Homo sapiens: one gene and its partners. The protein of the gene in region 1 purifies or fractionates together with the protein of each later gene. This does not show direct contact. Each region holds a gene or a part of one and is shown in the gene's direction. Other genes may lie near its edges.

Region 1 (3,955 bases):
TGTGAAAAAGGTCAAAACAGAGTAATGGGAATGAGAGGGATAGTCAAAGAAGACCTCTTTGATAAGGTATCTTTAAAGCACAGACTTGAAGGAAGTGACACAACAGTCTTGCAGATGTCTGAGAGAAGAACATTTTGGGCAGAGGGAATTTCCTTTGCAAAGGCCCTGGGTGGGAGTGTGCCTAGCACATTGAAGGAACCACAGGAAGAGCAGTGAGGTGGAGTAAGCAAGGGGAGAATGATAGGGGATGAGCAAAGGGTCAGCGGTAGAGAGGAGTGGATAGATTAGGTCCTATAGGCCCTTGTAACAGCTTTAAATATTACTCTGAGTGTGATGAGAGCCACAGGAATGGGAGAGGTGTTAAATAGAGAAGGAACATATTTAGAGTTCAGTTTTAAGTTTAATGACTCACTCTAGTCACTGCGTTGAGAATCTAACATGGGGGTGGTGGTGGTTGGTGTGGAGCAAGAGTGACCTACTAGTAGGCCATTGCAATAATCTGAGAAAGAAATCATGGTGGCTTGCACCAGAGTAACAGCATTGGAAGAGGTGAAAAGTGGTTGGATTCTAGATATATTCTGAATGTATGTAATGTGTTAGAAAGAACACAAGGGACATGCCATGATTTTTGGCCTGAGTAAACACAAGAATGAAGTTGTTATTAGCTGGGGTTGGGAAGACTTTAGGAAGAGCAAGTTTTAGGGAAAAAACAGGAGTTTGGTTTTACACATGTTAATTTTTGAATGTCTGTTTGGTGTCCAAGTGGAGATGTCAAGTAAGCAGTGTAGAGTGGGGCTGGGGAGTGATCTGATCTGCTTATATACATTGGGAGTTGTTGGTGTAGAGATGAGATCACCAAGGGAGTGAGTGTTGACAGTGATGAGGTCAAGGAGTCCTGGGTCACTCAAATATACAGAGGTCTTTCAAAGAAAACTGAGTAAAAGTGGGCGACGAAGTAGGAAAACTGAAAGAGACTCCAGAAGAAAAGATAAATATATGTCAAGAGGAATAGAATGATTGATTCCGTCAAATGCTGCTTGTGGTTAAGATAGAGACTGAGAGCCAGCCACTGGATTTGACAATGAGGAAGTCATTCAAAGTGCCGGGAAAAACATCTCGGTTGAAATGGTTTTAGAGCAAATGAGAGGGGAGAAAATAAGAGATGGTATTTGTAGACTTGACTCTTTGGGGGAGTTTTGTTATAAAGGAAACTGAATAAGAGGTAACTGTATGGAGAGTGAGATGAAAAGAAGGGAAAGTATTTTTTTTTTGCTATGGAGAATATTAAGGCATATTTGCAAGATGATGTAAATGATGCAGTAGTCAGGGAAAGATTGGTGTTGCGGGAGGTGGGGGCATTTCCTGAAACTGTGTCTCTGAATGAGTAAGCAGGGATGGATCCAGCACACAGACAAGGGCTGATATTGGATAAAGGTGAGGACAGTTCATGGCTATAATGGAGGAAAGACAGAGGAGAGGGCACACCTGCAGGGAGTGGTTGGAGATGGGGCTGAGAACAGGTGGAAGTTTTCCATTAACTGCTTCTATTTTATCAATGAAATAGGAAGCAGGGTCAACAGAGTGAAGGCAGGAGTGGAATTGTTGAAAGTTTGAGAAGAGGGGAGAAGGTATAAAATTGTCGTTTGGGAAAATGAGAGAGTGAAAGGACTAGGGCAAACTGAGGGAACACTGAGTAGCCCTTGGGGCTCACTTAGAGCTTAAAGTGAGACCAATCACTGTATATGTTATCTTGTTTTTGGTTTAGAGTGCAGGGTTAGTTGGATTGATTTTTGTTTTCCAGTGATCCCAGTGGGAACAGATGGGAAATGGATTTGAGGATATATGCAAGGCAGTATATAGATGCTTGGTCTTGGAATCTGCTGAGGAGGAATGAAGCATAGTAAAAAGATGACATAAGCAGTGGATTGTATATGCTGGCAGGGTTGCTAGAGTAATGGTACTAGAGTAAGGGAGATGAAAGGATAAGAGATGATGATTTGGTAGCTGGGGTGTTTGAGGTAGATAGTAGGAGGGGTACTATTACTGAGAAGCAGTGGAAAACTGAGATGGAGTGGATGACAAGGTCATTGGAGGAGTCCAGAAGAAAGGTGAAAATAGGAGTGAAACAGTCACCTACATGATTACTGACATCACAATGAACCATGACAGATCCTGGGAATTACAGTAAACCAGACGCTAATGGATATCTTTAGGAAGGGACATAATGGCCTAGGATTCTGCCTAGGGGCTTTTAGGGGGAAGGAAGAACAGTGGCCTGTAACATTATAAATGTAAAATGTTGACTATAAGTTCTGAAAATTCTATTTAATATGTATAGAACGTAGGAGATGCAACTTAAAATAGTTCATGGTGGGGGTTGGGAATTTTGTAATTAGCTAAATATGAGCTAGTGGTATGGTGAAATTACTAAAATATCTTATGTAATTTCAGATAGTATTAATAGAAAGTCTCAGGTGCACATTATACGAGGTAATAGCTCCCCTAGATTCTGTTCTAGGCAGGCCAAATTTGGATTCTCATACTAAAGGGTAGGTGCCATGTTTTGAGAGACATTGACGAGCTATAATACGGTGAGAGCAGGGCAATTGGGAGGCTTTTGGAAAACATGCCATTTGAGAGATAGTTAAAGAAATTAAGAATTTTTATCCAAAAGAAAAGAATGAAGATCTGAATGTTAAATACTAGAAGAACTTTCATGAAGCAAAGGAAGAAGACTTGACCCAGCTGATTTCACAGAGCAAAATTAGGACTAGTGATGTGGAGAAGTAGATTTCTTCTGAATGAAAGAAAATGTTCTAATAATTAGAACTGATCAGAAAAGACAGATTCTCTCCCAGTTAGTGATGTTCAAGCAAAAGCCAGGTTGCCATTTTAATGTGGGGAAAGCAGAAAGGAAGTCATTAGTTACACTAAGATGTTTATATCTTCCTAAAAGACAACAGTGCCCCTAACTTGACATTGTTATTGTTACATTATTACTTGTATTAGTCCATTTTCACACTGCTGATTAAGAGATACCCGAGACTGGGCAATTTACAAAGAAAAAGGTTTAATCAACTTACAGTTCCATATGGTTGGAGAGGCCTCACAATCATGGCAGAAGGCAAGGAGGAGCGAGTCATGTCTTACATGGATGGCAGCAGGCAAAGAGAGAGATTGGGCAGGGAAAATCCCCCTTATAATACCATCAGATCTTGTGAGACTTATTCACTATCATGAGAACAGCATGGAAAAGACCTGCCCCATGATTCAATTACCTCCCGCTGGGTTCCTCACATAACACGTGGGAATTCAAGATGAAATTTGGGTGGGGACACAGCCAAACCATATCATTCTGCCCCTGGCCCCTCCCAAATCTCATGTCCTTACATTTCAAAACCAATCATGCCTTCCCAACAGTCCCTCAAAGTCTTAACTCGTTGCAGTATTAACTCAAAATTTTATAGTCCAGTGTCTCATCTGAGACAAGGAAGTCTCTTCTGCCTATAAGCCTGTAAAATCAAAAGCAACTTAGTTACTTCCTAGATACAGTGGGGGTACAGGCATTGGGTAAATATAGCCATTCTAAATGGGAGAAATTGGCCAAAACAAAGGGGCTACAGTCCCCATGCATGTCTGAAATCCAGCAGGGCAGTCAAATCTTAAAGCTTCAAAATGATCTCCTTTGACTCCGTGTCTCACTGATGCAGGAGGTGGGTTCCCATGATCTTGGGCAACCAGGTCACACTGATGCAGGAGGTGGGTTCCCATGGTCTTGGGAAGCTCTGCCCCTGTGGCTTTTCAGGGTACAGCCTCCCTCCTGGCTCTTTTCATAGGCTGGCATTGAGTGCCTGTGGCTTTTCCAGGCACATGGTGCAAGCTGTCGATGGATCTACTGTTCTGGGGTCTGAAGGACAGTGGCCCTCTTCTCACAGCTCCACTATGTGGTACACCA
Region 2 (3,592 bases), on another chromosome or scaffold:
TTCAGAATTCAGGGTCTGCTCACTGTGCAGCAAGTCACAGTAGTACGTGCTTCAAGACATGCCAGGATGGGAGTTGCTTTGTAGCCCAGGGGACTTGGATAAGAGGCTAGGCCTGTGTGCTCTCCAGGTATTCCTGGAAGTGAATTTTCTGTGCTTCTCTCTGGCACAAGAGTGGGCTGCTAGAGGCCCACTGGGTGCGGTCTGTCCATGGAGAGGCCTGATGCTCACCACTGGTCCTGATAACACTCTCAGCATGGTGCTGCAGTGCCTGAGGATGGGGTCCACTGCCCCAGAGGGCTGAATCTCTGCTCACACTTTCAGGATCACAGTGGGAGGTCAGAAGACAGCACTTATGGGGGTTTTGAGGTCTGGATCTTGTACCCAGCCCTTGAACTTGAGGTATGGAGATGGGGGTCTTTGGAACATAGAGGTTTGAGTTCTCAGGGTTCCTTCAGCACTGACACCTGCCCCAGTCAGCCTGCTGTCTCCCAGCTTAGCTGGCCCCATCCCAGCCTAGCCTGTCCATGCTGCCTCCTGTGTCCTACACCGGCTCCAAAGCCACTTCCTTCTGGGTGCTTCTGTGGCTACCCAGACTGGCTGTTATTCCTGCACCACCATAGCCTCATGCCCATACATTGCCCAAGCTGCCTCACCTTCCCACTTGATATTTTTTTGTTATTTGTGTACCAGGTCCATATTTTCTTGAGGATTGTGTATCATTTTATGTCCTCCCAAATCGCCATTTATTGAACAGGTCAGTACTGAATAAATGTTTGGAAATAAATGTTGAGTCTAGTTGAGTTGAATTCTCTTGTGCCTAGGAGCAAACATGCCAAACGCCCATCACTGGACAGTGGGAAGGTGGAGGCTGTTTGAGTGTGGCAGGGGTGTGTTGGAAGAATGTGGAGCTGACTGTGAGGGGCCCTGGACTTTGTGAATGCACTGATGTGTCCTAGGAGTCAGAGTCCATTTGTGGGATAGATGTAAACTGGTCTTTGTATACTGACGCAGAAATGCCCATCAAATCTGTGATCAGAGACCATTCTATGTGCTCCTGAGTCATAACACAAGTCAGAAATCCAGGAACATTTTGGAAGTGCATAAAGGTACAGAAGTTGTTCCAGGCTCTGGGAAATCTCTTGTTTACAGCAAGCAGATAAGAGCTGTGGTTTTCCTCCTAATTGTTCTGTGAACTGTCATCCAGTAATGTGTAACTTTGTCAAATTAAAGAATTGGAAGCAGGCCTGTGGCAGGTTCTTTCCTGTTTGTCCCAAGAACTTTAGTTGTCCATAAGCCATTGTCTCTGTAATTCAATTCTGTTGAATTCATTTCAGCATGCACTTGTGGTGAGCCTGCTTTGTACCAGAGGTGCGCTGTGCTAGGTATGAGAGATTCAGAGATAAACTGCAGAATGTCACCAAAGGAGAGAAATCTGACAGGTCCAAACCAGTGTGTCAAGCACATCAGAAGAAATGTGGGTGATGTTTGGGCACAGAACTGAGGAGGGGGTGAATCAACACCTCTTGGGGGTAGAAGTGGGAGGCTGGAAGTAGGGGGCTGGCAGAACATCAGGGAAGCCTTCTTAAAGAGGCCTCTGAGTTGTGAAGCACAGAATGAAATAGGATATTCCAGGCAGAGGGGTAGAGATGTGTGCACGTCTGTAATGTTCTGTTCTCAGGGTCTTGGCGGGGGGCCCAGCTCTCCAAGCCCAGACCGCCCTCGTGACTTTACTTTATTCTGGTGGCTGATGGCCAACCAAGCACGAAGTCCTGAATTCTTTGCTCTAACACAATGCTTCTCAAACTTTAACGTGCTTATGAATTGCCTGCCAGTCTGACTAAAAGGCAGTATAAGATTCCTTAGTTCTAAGGTGGGGGTTGAGATTCTTCGTTTCTAGATGGTGCCATTTATTGGTTACATTTTGAATAGTGGGTAGTAAGAAACTCTTCTTTCTCAGCACAGGTCCCTCATGTCAGACTGTTGTACCCAAGCGAGTTAGTGAGAACGCCACACTTTGAGACGAATTAAGAGTCCTTTATTAAGCGGGTGGCCAAAGAGACGGCTAACGCTCAAAATTCTCTCGGCCCCGAGGAAAGGGCTTGATTAACTTTTATACCTGGTTTAGGAAGGGGAGGGGGACTCAGATGCAATAATTCTACAGAAGTAAAAACATGCAAGAATCAAAAGAAGCAAAATGGTTACAGAGAGATAAACAATTTAAAAGACAAATGGTTACAAAAAGAGCAACGGTACCAGGTGCAAGGCTCTAAATCTTTCATTATAATTAGATATAGGGAGTATGTCGGACCCGAACTCAAGGCTTTATGTTGTTATCTCTTTAAGAAAAATCCTGGGAACTTCATACATTGTTGGTGCTAGTACCTTATCAGTTAATTGGGCTCCTTTGAAACGCTGAGGATCTGCTTACACAGGTCAACTCCTTGCGGAAGGGGGTTGGGTAAGGAGCCCTTAGTGTCTTGTAAATTAAGGGGTCAATTGGAGTTTGTCTGGCTTTCCCAGCTAGAAAGAGTCTTATTTACAGGAGAAGCAAGGCTAGGTGATTAAAGAGACAAGCAGGATAAAATTCAAAGTAGCGAGTTAGAGTAAAAACAAGGTTAGGCATTTCAAGACAACCATAGCAGCACCCCCTTCCCCAACACACACAGGCACTGATTTTCCCCTTCTTTTTCCGCTTCCCAAGTATATAGATGCCAAATTCCTCTTTCTTAGATGTTGTTTTTTGTTTGGTTACCCCCGTTACCTGGAACTTCTTTTCTTCTTCTTCATCTTTTTTTTTTTGTTTTTTTTTTTTTAAAGACAAGGTCTTGCTCTGTCACCTAGGCTGGAGTTCTGGGCTATAGTGATCCTACCACCTCAGCCTCCCAAATAGCTGAGACCACAGGCGTGTGCCACCATGCCCAGCTAATTTTTTATAGACAGGGTCCTCCCATGTTGTCCAGGCTTGTTTCAAACTCCTGGGCTCAAGCAACCCTCTTGCCTCAGCCTCCCAAAATGCTAGGATTACAGGCAGGAGCCACCGCACTCAACCAAGGTTCTCTCTTATTCCTTTTTTTTTTTTTTAATTATTTTAGATTCATGGGGTACATATGCATATTTGTTACATGGGTATATTGTGTAGTGATGGAGACTGGGCTTTTAGTGTACCCGTTATCCAATAGTGACCCTTATACCTGATAGGTAATTTTCACCCCACCCTCCCCTCTTCAGCTGTCCCCAGTGTCTGTTATTTCTGTCTTCATGTCCATGTATACTATTGATTAGCTCCCACTTGCAAATGAGAACACGTGGTATTTGATTTTCTGTTTCTGGGTTAGTTCACTTAGGATGATGGTCTCCAGCTCCATGTTGCTGCAAAGGACATGATTTCGTTCTTTTTTTATGGCTGCCTCTTTTGTTTCTTAAATCTGAATTTCCATGTGGCTTCAATGCTAGTCTGGCCTACCCTTTCCTTCCCAAAGTCACCACCAACTCACTCCCACCCCCACCTCATGCAGTGCACCCCTCACAGCCCCCACCCTTGGCAGTGACATTTGGATTTCCAGGGCCTTTCCTGATCCTTTAGAGACATCCT
Region 3 (3,110 bases), on another chromosome or scaffold:
CTGTTTCTATGCATTTGTTGGTTTCGACTGTATTGCTACCACTGGTAACACAGTCATTCCATTCTGTTTGGGGCTTGGGCACAGTGTGTGCCCAGGCTGTATGCAGACTGGGGGTGGTAGAGGAGTGGGCCTGCTTCCCTAATTTAGAACCTTACGCCCTTCCTTCAGGAGAAGAAGCCCAGAATCCCCAGCGTTCCATCCCGATGGGCATTGTGATCTCACTGTCTGTCTGCTTTTTGGCGTATTTTGCTGTCTCTTCTGCACTCACCCTGATGATGCCTTACTACCAGCTTCAGCCTGAGAGCCCTTTGCCTGAGGCATTTCTCTACATTGGATGGGCTCCTGCCCGCTATGTTGTGGCTGTTGGCTCCCTCTGTGCTCTTTCTACCAGGTCAGTATCAAATGTTTGTTTTCTTCTGCTGTCAGAGTCTCAGGTTATAGCATTCAGTACCAGAGAATACCCCTTAAAAGGGCTGTGAGGGGAAAGTGGAGACTCTTTAAACATACAGTCTTGGGAAGAGAGATCCCAGTCAACTCATGCCACCCTGGGCATTCTCCTCTCCAGCCTCCTGGGCTCCATGTTCCCCATGCCTCGGGTGATCTACGCGATGGCAGAGGATGGCCTCCTGTTCCGTGTACTTGCTCGGATCCACACCGGCACACGCACCCCAATCATAGCCACCGTGGTCTCTGGCATTATTGCAGGTAACAGACCCTCTTTCCCCTTCCCTTAGTTGTTTCGCCAACTTCTTTAACTTTGCCACTCCCTTCTCTCATTTCTTGTTTCCTGCCTATTAATTTTAGCATTCATGGCATTCCTCTTCAAACTCACTGATCTTGTGGACCTCATGTCAATTGGGACCCTGCTTGCTTACTCCCTGGTGTCGATTTGTGTTCTCATCCTCAGGTGAGACTCTTCCTCTGCATACTGTGATTTGGATTTTTATTCTTGGATGAGGAATGATGGAGATCTGCTCCTCTTTCCTCCTTCGCCTTCATTATTCCAACTTTCTTTGAGGAATCTGGGTATCTCACCCTGCCAAAAAGAACTTCCCTTAATGGTGATGAGGAAGGTTAAGCTGCCTGGGAGAAGATGATAAAGTGAGTAAAGGTTGTTCTTAATACTGCCATCTTACTTTTGCCTCAGGTATCAACCTGATCAGGAGACAAAGACTGGGGAAGAAGTGGAGTTGCAGGAGGAGGCAATAACTACTGAATCAGAGAAGTTGACCCTATGGGGACTATTTTTCCCACTCAACTCCATCCCCACTCCACTCTCTGGCCAAATTGTCTATGTTTGTTCCTCATTGCTTGGTGAGCAGTGGAATTTTTCTGGGGTGGCTCTGAGATCAGCGTGATTGGGTCGAAGTGTGTGGCATTTGGTGGCTGAGGAAGAACTAGAGAGAGAGCGACTCTCCTTGGAACAGGGTTTCTAATGTCTTAGCATGTTGGTCTTAAGAGTTGGTTTTGATGTCTCTCAACTTGACCTTTGAAGCTGTCCTGCTGACTGCTCTTTGCCTGGTGCTGGCCCAGTGGTCAGTTCCATTGCTTTCTGGAGACCTGCTGTGGACTGCAGTGGTTGTGCTGCTCCTGCTGCTCATTATTGGGATCATTGTGGTCATCTGGAGACAGCCACAGAGTTCCACTCCCCTTCACTTTAAGGTAAATGAACTCTGTCTTTTTTCCTTGCCAGCCCATCTTGGGAGAATAGGCTCCAGATATCTTGAGGTCTAATAAAGTTCATAGATATTCTTTAATTGAACATGAAAGGGAAGATATAGGAGGTACCTAGGCCAAAGACTTCTTCTCTGACCCTCTTTAGTTCCTTTCCAGTTCCATTTACCCAAACTGCATATTCTTGGAGTCTCATGAGGTATGCTAAATGAGCAGCTACTGAAATGCAGAGGACAAGTAAGAGTTGGACTCACCCTTTTCTGGCCTGCATAGGATAGGGATCTCTTTCTAGGTCAACCTGTGGTATGTACAAAGAAGATTTTACTTTGTTTTCAGGTGCCTGCTTTGCCTCTCCTCCCACTAATGAGCATCTTTGTGAATATTTACCTTATGATGCAGATGACAGCTGGTACCTGGGCCCGATTTGGGGTCTGGATGCTGATTGGTAGGTATCCACTTGGGAAGAGTAGGCTTCTTTGGTGTCCTAGCCCAGCTCCTTTCCCTCTTGGTCTCAAGTAGGAAACCTATGAAGCCTTTACACCCCCACCTCACAGCTACCTTTCCCCACTAGGCTTTGCTATCTACTTCGGCTATGGGATCCAGCACAGCCTGGAAGAGATTAAGAGTAACCAACCCTCACGCAAGTCTAGAGCCAAAACTGTAGACCTTGATCCCGGCACTCTCTATGTCCACTCAGTTTGACATCGTCACACCTAAATGCTGTCTGGTCCCCTGCACAATAATGGAGAGTACTCCTGACCCCAGTGACAGCTAGCCCTCCCCTGTGATGGTGGTGGTGGATACTAATACAGTTCTGTACGATGTGAAGGATGTGTCTTTGCTATTTCTTGTCTATTTTAACCCGTCTGCTTCTAAATGATGTCTAGCTGCTTACCAACTTTAAAAAATGATATTAAAAGAAAGTAGAAAAATAAACTGTGTCCTGTTTTTTGCTTGCTAAAGATGTAGAGCCTGACTTTTAAGAGTGAAGAGCCTCAGAGAAGTGTCCTTTGTGTTTTCTTCAGTTACCACAAAAGCATCTGCTGTGCCTGTGGGTGCTTCTTGTTGAATCAGGGTTTGAGGAGGGTGGTGTAAGTAGGTAGCCATCCAGTCCAGTCACACTTAAAGGAATGGTCTTGAGATATGTTTTCCCCTCATTACACTTAAGGTTAGGTTCTGGATAAGTAGACAGCAACACTTGTCTCTGGGATTTGGGGTGGACTCTGATAGCAACACTGACATTGGTTAGGGCCTACACTGAAACTATTGGCTTCTGTTCCACCTCTTCTAGTTGGACCAGTCCCACACTCCTGTAACTGCCTGAGCATCAGAAATTTTGGCTGCGGTGTTTGGCACTGCTGGGAGGAGGGGTGGATAGTCAGGGGGTTTGGTAAGGGACCACATATATTAATATATGGATACTGTTTGCTGCAGAA
Region 4 (3,592 bases), on another chromosome or scaffold:
TATATTAGACCCTGAAGTTTTTCTCTGATATGTCAGTTCTATTTATTATATGATGATACTACATATGAAAGCACTGTTTTCTGTTCTGCCGATTAACCTAGTCTTTCCAGCAAACTTTCTCCATACGACGATCACAATTTAAAATTTTCTTTCCTATTATTATAAATGTCACAGTCCCAATGATGTCTTTCAGACTTTGAACTAAAAGCAGCAAAAAAAATCTAACATCAGATTATATGCCCCCGTTTTTGTTTCAGAACAGAGTATCACTCTGTCCAAGGCTTCTCAACCACCGCAGTCATAGGATGTTTCTTTTGTATTAATATGGAACTGTTTCCTGGTAATTTATTTTACTTAATACATCTTTCTCTTGATTTTTTTTTAACAGATATGGAGATTAATCACCAACTTCTTATTTTTTGGGCCAGTTGGATTCAATTTTTTATTTAACATGATTTTTCTGTATCCTTTATTAAATGGGGTCAGCATCAAAACTTTTTCTTAGGAAGTAAAAAATTAAGTTGAAACTTTTCATCCTGTTACTTGTTTTTGGTACCATCTTAGCTATGATTTCTGGGTCAGTGGTACATAAAGTAGTTGCTTAGGTAGTAATGTTTTGAAAATGTCTGTAGGTCACTTTGTTCAAATGGGAGGTTTTAACCATAAAAAGATAGCACTTCTGCTCTTTTGTTACTTACAAATCTGATCAAGGGAGGGGAGAATTGATTTAACTGAGGCATACCTCCACAGTAACCAACAGGTTCGAAGCCGTAAAACAACCTGAATGCAATGGTAATTCAGCAGAATTTGGGCATAAGTTTTGGAATGGGTTCATGAGGAGTGGGAACCTGAGATCTCCTTGGGTCCTGGTTGCTGGAACTACTGGCTGAAAGACAGTGGTTGTGTCTGCTGGGCTTGTCAAGTTCCGGTTTGTTGAAAGGAAAACCCCAGCTCTGATCCAATGGTAATTGGGGCCACAGAGCAGGGCATTCCTCTTCCACCCCTGCCCTCTGTATTAAGAGGGAGTTACAGTTCAACTCATCTGCAGCTGCATTCCTTCCTGAGGATGGCAGGAATCCATTTTATATCCTATGTAGGATATCATTCTGATAAGTTTCCATTAAAGTTTTTTCTCATCGTAATTCATCTTTATTGACTGAGGTGCTCAACCTGCCAGGCTGGAAAAGTAGTTGAGCACACAAGGCTTCTTGCTGCGGATTTCTTCCAAGTTAGGATGTGGGAAAGCAAAGATGGTGCATATTAAGGTGTGGCTGAGCACAGGAAAGACAATACAAATTTTTAAAGGTTTAATAGGGGACTGGAGGGCCGGGTGTGGTGGCTCACACCTGTAATCCCAGCACTTGGGGAGGCCAAGGCAGTGGATCACGAGGTCAGGAGTTTGAGACCAGCCTGGCCAACATGGTGAAACCTGCTCTCTACTAAAAATACAAAAAATAGCCTGGCATGGTGGCACACAACTGTAATCCCAGCTACTCAGGAGAATGAGGCAGGAGAATCGCTTGAATCTGAGAGGCGGAGCTTGCAGTGAGCCGATATGGCACCATTGCACTCCATCCTAGGTGACAGAGCGAGACTCTGTCTCAAAAGAAAAAAAAAAAAGAATAGGGGACTGAAAGCATGTCTGTGTGTCATCTGGATTAGTTCCCAGCCAGGGACAGTTTGTAAAAAATGATGCTGGTCTTGACCTTTTCTCAAATGCTTGGTAAAAAAGTAATCACATTACCACTCAAACATTCTTATACAAATGAAGACTTGACTAATTACAAATAATATGGAATCCAAGTGTACTTACAAGATAACATTAAATTTTTACTTTGTTCATATTCGTGTGCTTAATATTTTCTTAACTTGGAACTTAAGATATCGTTACTGTCGAATGCTAGAAGAAGGCTCTTTCCGAGGTCGGACAGCAGACTTTGTATTTATGTTCCTTTTTGGTGGATTCTTAATGACCGTATCCTTCAACAAACAACACGGGAAAATGTTGAAGAACACCCTGGCTCTTCCTAAAGCTTGTCATCTGTCTCCCACAGTTCTCTAGATCTTAGCTTCAGGGCACTATCATTTATTTTACAGCACATTTTCTGTGACAAGTTTCCAAACCTAGCAGTCGGACAGGATGAGCAAGTCAAAGGAACTTTTAACCCAGGTGGGTTACTGTTAAGCAACTCAGTTATATCATTACTGCTTGGCGTACTTCACTTTTAAACTAAGTTGGTAAGACATTTACTTGGTGGCTACCAAAACCAATAAATTATTTTTTCAGAAAAAGAATTTTCATCTATACAATAGACTTAGATATGGTACGGTCTGACAAGATGGTTTTGTTCCAGCTAGCTTTATTCATCTCTGTAAAGGTGCTAATCGTGAGCAAGCTTTAATATAATTATTGACTGAAGAATTAACACATTTTCCAAAGAGGCAAGAACTTCACGAAAGCAGAGTATTTGTTTGAAGTAGCTGTAAATCTCGATAATTTAGCCTAAGCAGATTTTTGCCTGATTGCTCTGGGTAATTATTTTCTGGGTGTTTCTCCTTCTATTCTAAAGATGTAACAACTTGACTTTTCCAATTCAAACTTCTGTTAGAACACAATCTTTAGTTCTCCTGCTCAGTCTTTCCTATTAAACTTTTAATGTTGATATTTTCCTTAATGCCATCTGCTAGCTTTTTGGTCTGTTTGTGAGCTTAGTTTTCTTGGGCCAGGCCTTTACAATAATGCTCGTCTATGTGTGGAGCCGAAGGAACCCCTATGTCCGCATGAACTTCTTCGGCCTTCTCAACTTCCAGGCCCCCTTTCTGCCCTGGGTGCTCATGGGATTTTCCTTGTTGTTGGGGAACTCAATCATTGTGGACCTTTTGGGTAAGGCTCTTCTCACTATTTTTTAAATTATTTTACCTGTAAAAGTATTTTGTTACTATTTTTCATGTTTATTCTGTTTGGCCTTCACGTATTACCTATTGTAAAATACCACAATATTAGTTCATTAATTTTTAATAATTATGTTGACATTCATCCTAAATATAGGCAATTTGTGTTGGTAGGTCTACCTGCAATCTAAATTTTAATTCTCTCCCTCATCCTTTATTTCTGCTTGACTCTAGGTATTGCAGTTGGACACATATATTTTTTCTTGGAAGATGTATTTCCCAATCAACCTGGTGGAATAAGAATTCTGAAAACACCATCTATTTTGTGAGTATTTAACACCAGGTTACATACTCTTACAGGCAAACCAGGACAGGGGCATGATCTGTGTTTTCTTTGGCTCCCCTAGCTCCTAGTACACATAGCTCAGGTCAGTAACCATTTGCAGATTGAGCATTCTGGCTACAGTTGAAGAGCACTTGGACTGGGTAGGAGCAGACAGTGCCAGGGTTGTGGCAAGACCAACGTCAACAGGCTCAAGATATCTTGGGAGTAACCTGGTAATTGTTAGAGATGACCACTAGAACTTCTATTCTGGTAGGAGCCTGCTGGTTTTATGAAAGCTGCTGTCCACGTTTAGTGAAGTAAGGTAGCAAAATGGGCAAAACTGATGAAAGTTTCTGATGGTGGACTTTGTGGCCT

What was found. The genes of interacting proteins can lie anywhere in the genome.
Region 2: the proteins of RTN1 (region 1) and PRXL2A purify together in Homo sapiens (affinity purification with mass spectrometry; 2 studies listed by BioGRID and IntAct, with this or other methods). This does not show direct contact.
Region 3: the proteins of RTN1 (region 1) and SLC7A3 purify together in Homo sapiens (affinity purification with mass spectrometry; 2 studies listed by BioGRID and IntAct, with this or other methods). This does not show direct contact.
Region 4: the proteins of RTN1 (region 1) and DERL2 purify together in Homo sapiens (affinity purification with mass spectrometry; 2 studies listed by BioGRID and IntAct, with this or other methods). This does not show direct contact.

Annotation. Positions count from the first base shown.
Region 1 is NC_000014.9:59,860,522-59,864,476, reverse strand, and holds part of RTN1 (reticulon-1), read left to right. Parts: intron 1-3,955. UniProt on the Homo sapiens protein: Inhibits amyloid precursor protein processing, probably by blocking BACE1 activity.
Region 2 is NC_000010.11:80,414,959-80,418,550, forward strand, and holds part of PRXL2A (peroxiredoxin-like 2A isoform 1 precursor), read left to right. Parts: intron 1-3,592. UniProt on the Homo sapiens protein: Involved in redox regulation of the cell. Acts as an antioxidant. Inhibits TNFSF11-induced NFKB1 and JUN activation and osteoclast differentiation. May affect bone resorption and help to maintain bone mass.
Region 3 is NC_000023.11:70,925,079-70,928,188, reverse strand, and holds the end of SLC7A3 (cationic amino acid transporter 3), read left to right. Parts: coding exon 1-44; intron 45-168; coding exon 169-391; intron 392-565; coding exon 566-705; intron 706-804; coding exon 805-907; intron 908-1,147; coding exon 1,148-1,314; intron 1,315-1,495; coding exon 1,496-1,662; intron 1,663-2,010; coding exon 2,011-2,119; intron 2,120-2,245; coding exon 2,246-2,376; 3' UTR 2,377-2,610; downstream 2,611-3,110. UniProt on the Homo sapiens protein: Uniporter that mediates the uptake of cationic L-amino acids such as L-arginine, L-lysine and L-ornithine. The transport is sodium ions- and pH-independent, moderately trans-stimulated and is mediated by passive diffusion.
Region 4 is NC_000017.11:5,479,679-5,483,270, reverse strand, and holds part of DERL2 (derlin-2), read left to right. Parts: intron 1-388; coding exon 389-462; intron 463-1,881; coding exon 1,882-1,975; intron 1,976-2,128; coding exon of another isoform or gene 2,129-2,170; intron 2,171-2,688; coding exon 2,689-2,884; intron 2,885-3,126; coding exon 3,127-3,217; intron 3,218-3,592.